2 separate regions of the Homo sapiens genome follow, and region 2 is linked to region 1. A link means that fine-mapping ties the variant in region 1 to the expression of a gene that starts in the linked region. Tissue or cell type: cerebellum. Region 1 holds a variant in brackets; the other region holds the start of a gene. All regions are shown on one strand. Distances are from middle to middle.

Region 1 (4,237 bases):
AGGGGGTTGGGCCTTTGATTCTACTCATAGACCAGTTGTAGGATTTGGGCTGTCCCCAGGGAGTGTACATAACTTGGGCCAGGCAGTACCCTTTGGGGGAAGGAGGGAAATTCTAGGGAGGGAACTGTAAGCTGTCAGCAGGTAACATTCTTGACCACTCGGTAAATAAGTGCCTTGGCTGTGTCCTGTAGAGGGCTCTGCATGATACACCACAGCATCTCCTACATATCTGGTACAGACACCAGAAAGACTGAGCAGAAATGTTCTCTTACTCCCCTCTTTTCCCAGCACCTCCCAGAGTGCACATTGTAGGCACTTCGTAAATATTGTTGGATAAATAGCCATAGACTCCAGGGACCCAACTGAGGCAAAGATGCCCCCACCACATCTTCAGTTTACAACTCCATTCAAATAAATCACTGTTATCTCTAGAGCTAGCAGGTATTGTTTACACCCATAGATTTGCTTCAAAACAGGGGAGAAAGGGTGATACAGCATTGGGAAAGTTTCTTAACTCTTTGGGAAAATAATTAAAGTTATAGCCATTACAGCTTTACTGCATAACAAGCAACATAATAATTTCAGGTGGTTAAAGGGTTAAATACAAAAGAATTTAAACCGTAAAAGAATGAGCAGAACATTCTAGGAGAACGTTTATATCAACTTGGGGTGGTTAGGCCTTTCTACACATTACTAAGCATTCAAGCATTTCTAAGCAAAAACTAAGGAAAAGATTAATGAATTTGATTAGTTAAAAACAAATTCCTCACTGGGTTAAAAAACATCAAAAGCAAAATTAAAAGGCAAATGAGACACTGGGGAAAATATAATAAACATATATTATAGACAAAAGGTTGATGTACAAGAAGAGTTCTCAGAAGTCAAAAAGGAAAAGATAAGCACCCCCATAAAAAATAGGCAATTGACATCAATAGGCAATTCACGAAAGAAAAATTACAGATAGACAATACACATATAAGAAAAAATTTAATCTCACTGGAAACAAAGATATGCAAATTAAATCAACAACAAGTATAGGGAATTGGGCATTCTTGTACACTGCTGGAGGGAGCTTAAATCGGTGTAATCTTTTTAGAGGGCAATTTGGCAATATCTGTCAAAAGCCTTAAAAATGTGCATCCATAGCCTTGACTCAGCAATTTTACTTTTAGGAATTTGTCTTAATGATCAAGGGGAATATATGTGCAATTATGTATGTATAAGTATATTCAATAAAGCATTATTTATGTTAATGAAAACTAAAAATAACCTGCATATCCAACCACAGGCAGTTGGCTAAATAAATTATGAAATATCCATAATAAGGGATACTATGGAATAATTAAAACAAAGTTGTAGAAGAATATTTACTGACATAAGAGAATATAATGTATGGCTGAGTGAAAAAAAGCAGGCCATAAAACAATATAGACAACACTATGAATGTGTGTGTGTGTATATACCTAGAAACATGTATTTTCCAAATGTTAACTTGATTTTTCACTTGGCAGTGGGTTACTGACTTTTATTTCCTTTGTATTTTCCTGTGTGCAGTCCAAATTTTCTAAATTAACCAAGAATTACTTTGTATTTAGAAAGTAAAGTGCCAAAATAATGGGATTTGGCAGAATTAGCAAAAATAATGAAATTATTAGTATTATTTGCATCAGGACTGGACCCTCAACTCTGAGAGAAGCCAGACTTGGATTCATCTCATGTTTGGCGCTGAGGACTGATAGCC[A/G]GAGAGGAACTCACCTGAGTACCACAGAAGACTCCCAGCATGAAGCAATTGTTAGTATGAGACCATCTGTTGTTTGAGGGCAGGGATGAGTCCCGGGCATCTCTGCGACTAGCACAGGACTGGCAATGAGCTGAATGAAGGTATGAATGAGCAGCATAATTAGTAAGTCTGCCTTTTAACCTCACATCTCTCATGCAAAACTTACTGCACGAGAAAAGAAGAGCCCCACTCCTTGCTCCCAGAAGAGTCAGCAGGATGTTCTTGTCATCAAGAACACCTGACTCAGAGCAGAGGCTGTGGTCCTACGAAGACGACCTTCCACCTTGGTTTTCTCCCTCCTGTCTGTCCCTCCCTCTGGATCTTGCTAAATTTCCCCTCCAAAAACTTTCTGTCAGCTTCAAGGTAGAGAGAGTTGGCTGCCCTACATGATGATGTCTTGAATTGACCTTGCACCCAAGGCATAACTGCATGGAACTCCTAGGACCTTAAACATAGACCATGCTGATTTAGCTTTCCTGCTGGAAGAGATGGCAACACTGTAGTTATGCTTGGGTGGATGGATGGATAGAGAGATAGATGGGTGGATATTAGGTAAGTTATCTAAAAGCAGGGGATAGAGGTACTAGAAGGCATTAGAGACTGGAAGTAGTAAATGGCTGGAAGTAACTGAGAATGTTGACTCGTGAGAACAAAGGTATTCTCTGCTATTACACCAACCACCCAACTCCGACATGTCAGCCCACCCTCTTCTTAAGGACTGAGGGACACTCCACTCATACATAGCCCTGGTGGCTCCCACAGCCCATGTTTGTCTCATGGAGAAGCTATGAAAGTCTAGCAAACTACCTCTTTTCTTGTTTCTCTCCCCACCTAGAGAGTAAAGCCCTCTGAAGGTAGTGATTTGGTTTCAGTCAATTTTCTTTCAATTGCAGGTTAAAGAAAGCCCAATCCAAACTGGATGAAGTGGAAGGAAATCTATGGCTCTTGTAACTCTTAAGTTCCAGGAAATAGGACTTGCCTCAGGTGCAGTTTGGTACAGAGGCTCAAGGAATTTCACCATGCATGTCCTGGTTTCTTTTTCTATCTCTGTACTTTTGTCTTCAAGGTTGGCTCCTTTCTCAGACAGGAATTTCCCCTGTGGTAGGAAGAGCGTTGTAGCAGTTCCAGCAGTCACACCCTCTTTGCTTCTAGCCTAGCCAAGGAAACATCTCAGATTCCCCAAGAAAGATTCATTGTACCTGCAGGTTCTGATCAGACTTTATGCTCCTCCCTGATTCAACCACCATAGCCAGTAGAAGGCCACAGTGATTGATTTAAGTTTAGGCTAGTTAAGGGGATGGTTGTCCAGAGAGAAGCAACCAGAAGAGGAGTGAGGATGCTGAGTGGCACAAGGAACAGATGCCCCTAGCAGACCATGTCCTCTTCAGTACGAGGTCCTACCACCTGGCACACAATCAGTATTGATACATGTTACTTCCACAACCCCATTCCAACAGAAAACACAGCATGAGCTTGTCACAGAAGCCCTCAAGGACTTCATGTGGCCTAGCCAGGGCTCTGTGTCCATGTGGCTTATCCCTCAGCTCCCTCTATTTCCTTTGCTGCCTTCCTGCCAGTCCCTGGCCTGTCATGCTACAGCTATGGGCAGCTGTCAGCAGGCCAGACCACCCTCCTCCTTCCAGAGCATTGGGCTGGAAATGTGTGAAATTGATGCAAACTTAGAAAACTAGGATTTGGGTTTCTCTCTCTTCCTCTCAGCATGCTTTTTGCTCAACCAGCCAGAACTGGTGGCCATCAACATACCTGCCTAAATCTGTGCCATGATAATTACCTCAGTAGCAACAGTAATAGTATTCTTATTATAACTCTTATTTTAAAGACCTACAATGGACCAAGCTCTTTAAACATATCACCACATGTCTGTGCAATAACCTTGCGAAGTAGTGTAACAGGGACCACCACAGGCTTTGCCTACCTGTAGGTACAAATGGGACCACATTACTCATAACTACTCAGATTTCACAGATTTGTTGTCCCCAAATGCTGGGGCATAATCTCTAGCCTCTTACAAATATTTCTGTGGGTTCCCAGGGGTCCTGTCATCTTGGCTCATAGTTGCTTTTCCTTGCTTTTTCCCTGCTTTTTCCCCCGGCTTTGCCAGGTTCCATGGTCTCTACTGTTGCTGTTCACCAGCAACCATGTTCCTACAGTGGAACCACCAGACACTGCATTCTCTGCCACTGCACTGGAGCCTCCACTCTGCCATTCTGCATGGCAGAAAATTTGAGGAAGAAGTCTGTCTCTTCCCCCTCTACTCTATGCCATATCTGTTAGTGAGGCCCTGATGCAGTTCTGTTTGTGCCATGATGTATTATGCAGTTGCTGAAATGGTTCCATCAATGCCCCCGCTCTCACCTACCCCCTACACTTACCACTGGACAGTGGCATGACACCAGTGGGGACTAGGCTGGGAGAAAAACACAAGTGTCAGAAACC
Region 2 (4,237 bases), 190 kb after region 1:
TGGCACCCAGCAAGGCGGCGTCGGGAGGGGCGGGCATACAAGCGTGTTGGGGGTGGGGACCAGGCCCGCGATTCTGAGGAGATTCGCCCGCCCAGGGCCACCGGGCTGGCTCCCCAGCTGTGGGATGAGCTCATGCAGGGAAACCGGAACAACTTGGGGTGGGGGGAGGGAGGAAGAGTGGCATCTAGGAGGCTGCGAAAGCGTGGCTCTGGGGAGGAAGTTTTTCATGGGGAGTAGGGACAAGCCTCCACTCCTCCAGCCCTGCCCCCGCCCCCCAATTCATATCGTCAACTCCACAGCCCCTCTTCACACCCTTCCTTGGATGGAAATTCCTGGCCACGCTGACAGCCGGCCAACCTGGGTCGCCAGCCACCCCCAGCCTGGCTCGCCATCCCTACAGTCCCTCTCCACACCCTTCCCCGGAAATTCTCAGGCCCCACCGCCCGCCGGCCACTGCCCCCTTGGCCACACAGATGCCAACGCTCCGTTTTGGCCAAATCAGGCTGCCCTAAGCCCGGAGCACAGCTTCTCTGGGGTGTGTCGGCAAAGGGGGCGGGGGTGCCCATCGCAGGTGCCTTTCCACTGCACGCGCCAGCAGAAGCCTCCTCTCTGGACCTTGCCCCTCCCAGTTTCCTCCAGCCTCCCCCCATGAAGCGTCTCTTCCCTCTCGCCGAGAGTTTGGCGTAGACAGCGAAGGAGCCATCGTGACTGGCGGAGAAGCCTGGAGTAGACGAGACAGAGACGGCGACCGAGTCGGGTGGGGGATGGGGTGGGGACCGACACTAAGCCCTTGGGGCCTAGAGGCAGCCGCTACTGGGGAGAGGTGGGGAGCAGCTCACGTCCTTGGGAAGAACTCTCTTGGTTTGGGGCCTTGGCTGGGAGGAGGAAGGGGAGAAGAAGAAGTAGGATCCGATTATTTAAATTTGGGGATAAATTGTACTAGTAACTCTTGCACCGTCCTTCCACCAACCTCACTCCCCACCCCCAACTCGCGTGCACACAGGGACCGCCTCTGCCACCCTGAGATTTTTGTCTTAGGGTAGGAGTGGGACCGCACTGGGTCAAATGAACCGGTTCCCCCCCCTCCCCACCCCACACACAACCCCCCTCCACCGCCCTCCAATTCTTAACCCTGCCTCTGTCTACGCACACACGCCCCTCTCCTGGGATGGGGTAGGAGGCTATTGTGAATGAGGCTCATAAGCATCGCCCCCGGCCCTAGATGGCAAGTTCAAAGCCACCACCCAAGATCAGCTGGTAAGAGCCAAGACTTGGGGAACGCGTCCTTCTTTGGTTACCTTTTCCCAGACAGGATTCCAATTTCCAAACGTGGAAGAGGTGTGCGTGTATGTGCCTGTGTGTGTGAGTGCGTGTGTCTCTGTCACTGTGTGTGTGTGTGTGTGTTTGTGTGTGTGTGTGTGGAGAGGGGGGTGTATTAATGGGTGATGTTATAAATGAAAACAGGAGGACTGAACTTAAAAGAAACTGGTCAATTGCAAAACAGACACGGATAAACAACCCTTTAGATGTAATTTGTGGTTTATCTGGAGGTGGAGGTGGCGCTGAAGAGGAACCCCCGCCCCCCAATATTTTATCCTTAGCTGCGCCTCCACCCCCAGCATTTGGAGCGGCGGAGAAGCGGCTCCGGAGTGATTAATCCGGGGATAATTCACCCCCTCCCGCCCCCCGGCGCGAACCCCGCGAAGCGGGATTGGAGCGAGTCATTTCCGAGAGCGCAGCGCGCCTCTCCCCGGCCGGGCGGACACTTGGTTCATTCCAGCCGCAGAAGCTCAGGGCTCCCGCGTACCGGGATTTTTTCCGAGCAGAAAAAAGCTCCAGAGCTCTCCTGACCTCCTTTCTCCTCGGCGGCGAGCGGAGCCTCTCCCTCGGCGCTGCCGGCCGCGCCATGCCGCGCTCGCGGGGACGGGAGCTGGGGCGCTGCGGCTGCCCCGCGGGGAGGGCTCGCGGCGAAACCGGGATTTCGGCGCTTGTGCCGGGCGCCGGGAGCCGCTGGGGCCGCCCGCCGCCGCCAACGCCGCCGCCTCTGCTGCTGTTGCTGGGCTGTGGGTTGCTCAGCGTCTCGGCCGCCGCGGGTGAGTCCAGCCGCGCCGAGGAGCCAGCGGCCGCCGCGCGCCCCACCCGAGCCCCGAGCCCACCCATCCTCGACCCGGTCCCAGTCCCTCCCCCCGCCTCTATCCCTGCCTGAATCTCCCACCCTCCCAGTTGCCTACTCTCATTCTCATCCCTGCCTCCGTCTCCCACCCCACCCTCAGCCACGTCCTCACCTCCACCCTCACCCTCACTGCTGCCCCAACCCCAGCCGCAACTTGGACGGATGCGGCCGGTGTGGGGGCCTGGGAGACAGACATCCCCGCCCGGGGTTGCGGGGCACCTGGTCTGTGGCTTCAGTTTCTCCAGCCTCCCAGCCCCCACGGTGCTAGGCTTTTTCCCGATAAACTTTCCGGGAGCCCTACTCCCCCGGCTCCTGATTCTGCCAGGCACGCTGGTCCTGGGGGCTGGAGAGGAACCGTGCGCCCCCTCCCCATTTCTGCGTCTGCAAGGTCTGCCCTTCCCTGCCCCCGCCCATTTTCTCCAATTGAAACCGGTGCCCCCTCTGGAACCGACTGCAGACTGCGGCCGCCATCCCCCTCCTCAAATGCTACCCCTCCCTCGGCGCTCGGAGCTAGGAGGGGGTTCAGGTGGACGCGTGCCCACGGTGGGGGTCCCGCGCATTCCTTGCAGGAGGGTGCAGGTGGGGGCTGGAGGGTGTTGAGGGATGGGAAGGAGGGGGTGGGGGTTGTAGCCCGAGGCGGGGGAGGGAGTGCCGCCGCCAGGCTTCGCGCTGCCACATTCCCCTCGGTGCTCACTCCGCGCCAAAGTGCCCTTTCCCGCGCCCTGCTGCAGCCGAGCGCCTCGGCTGCGGCAGCGGCAGCGGCGGCGCGGGCGGCGGGACCAGCTCCCGACGACCGAGTCCGGGAAGGGGCAGATCTAGCGGGTGCGGAGAGTCCCGGAACTTCGCGGGTGTCTGGCTGCAGCTTGCAGCGCGCGGGGGAGGTACGCGAACCTTCGAGGGAACCCGGTCCCCTGTGGAGGCTACTGGCCGCGACTGGTGCCCTCCCGCTTTACCCACAGCACCCCTCCGAAGCTCAGTTCTAGCTACAAGCTAGAAAGTTCCGTGTGCCCGGGTGGAGACGGGTCCAAACCGGGATGCCTGGAACCGCATTTTCATTTAGCCCGCGAGGCTGACACCCACTGGGGGAGAAACCGAAACACCTGCTGGCCAGGCCTAGACCTAGGGCACCTTCGACCTGGAGCCGTGTTTTCTTTTTTGTTTTTGTTTTTGTTTTGTTTTGTTTTGTTTTGAAACCACCGATTGAACCTCTGAAGGCTTGGCCTGGACCACCCCAGTTCCCCTTCTTGGGAAAGTGCGCCTCTCCTCTGGCAGGTCAGTGAGTGGCGAGCTCTCTGGCCCACTCTGGCCTTCAGCGTCTTGTGAGTCTGTCCTCGCAGACCGTGTCGCCCACCGCTTAACCGCGGCATGTTGGGGTTCTTGGTCAGGGAGGGCGCCCCGAGCCAGCTCTGGCTCTCTCATTCCTAGCTGACGGGACTTTCTTAGGTTCTGCTAAGAGTCATAGCCACCGACACCCAGAGAGGGGCGCCCGCGGTGCGCGCGCCTGGGAGCTCTGGCCTCTCGCACACCCACACCCACTGGGAGGCTGTGCATACCGACGCTGCTGGTCACCCAGACTTGCCACATGGGCGGTGGGGGAATCGCTGCTACCTCCCGCCAGGCCTCCCGGACGTACGTTGAGGCGAGGCCGGTCTCTGGCTTAGCTGATTGGAGAATGTCTCGGCATCGGACTGAATTGTTTTTCTGGCTAGATTTGTCCCTGCCCCTTGGGCATATCCTGCCCCTAGGGGAGAGAAAAAGGCCGACTCACCGGCGCTTGCACCGCTCAGCGGTGCTGGAATCCTGCCCTATAGAGATCCATTTGCTCGCAGCTCCTTGCTCAGTAGAGAAGTTGCGGGGAGGGGGCCTTGTGTTCATGGCTTGGGGTAGTTCCTCTCCGGCAGGCCCTGCTCTGGCTTGCAAGCTTCCAGTACATTTCTTTTCTTTTCTTCTCTTTCTTTTTAAATTTTTTTTAAGACGGAGTTTTGCTCTTCTCGCCCAGGCTGGAGTGCAATGGCGCGGTCTCAGCTCACTGCAACCTCCGCCTCCTGGGTTCAAGCGATTCTC

Which allele goes with the higher level. Alleles are on the strand shown, and positions count from the first base shown. SD is a standard deviation of normalised expression in the study named.
In carriers of allele A in region 1, the expression in cerebellum of the gene that starts at base 1,774 in region 2 tends to be higher than with G alone (moderate effect, 0.43 SD a copy in GTEx).

The links. PIP is the estimated chance that this variant, and not a neighbour inherited with it, causes the effect. A credible set is the group of variants that fine-mapping cannot tell apart.
Region 2: it holds the start of CSMD2, and the variant in region 1 is the best candidate, but not a certain one, in a credible set for the expression of CSMD2 in cerebellum (GTEx, PIP 0.51).

The regions. Positions count from the first base shown.
Region 1 is chr1:34,350,510-34,354,746 of GRCh38, reverse strand. No RefSeq gene overlaps it. Among named protein-coding and RNA genes, the nearest start is that of C1orf94, 180 kb to the right of the region's middle. The variant A/G (reference allele first, on the strand shown) is at 1,742.
Region 2 is chr1:34,162,767-34,167,003 of GRCh38, reverse strand. CSMD2 (CUB and Sushi multiple domains 2) reads left to right here and starts at 1,774. Exons shown (of 71, transcript NM_001281956.2): 1 at 1,774-2,093. The coding sequence starts at 1,907. It also overlaps a transcript of C1orf94 not described here. RefSeq lists enhancers at 3,264-3,323, 3,744-3,873.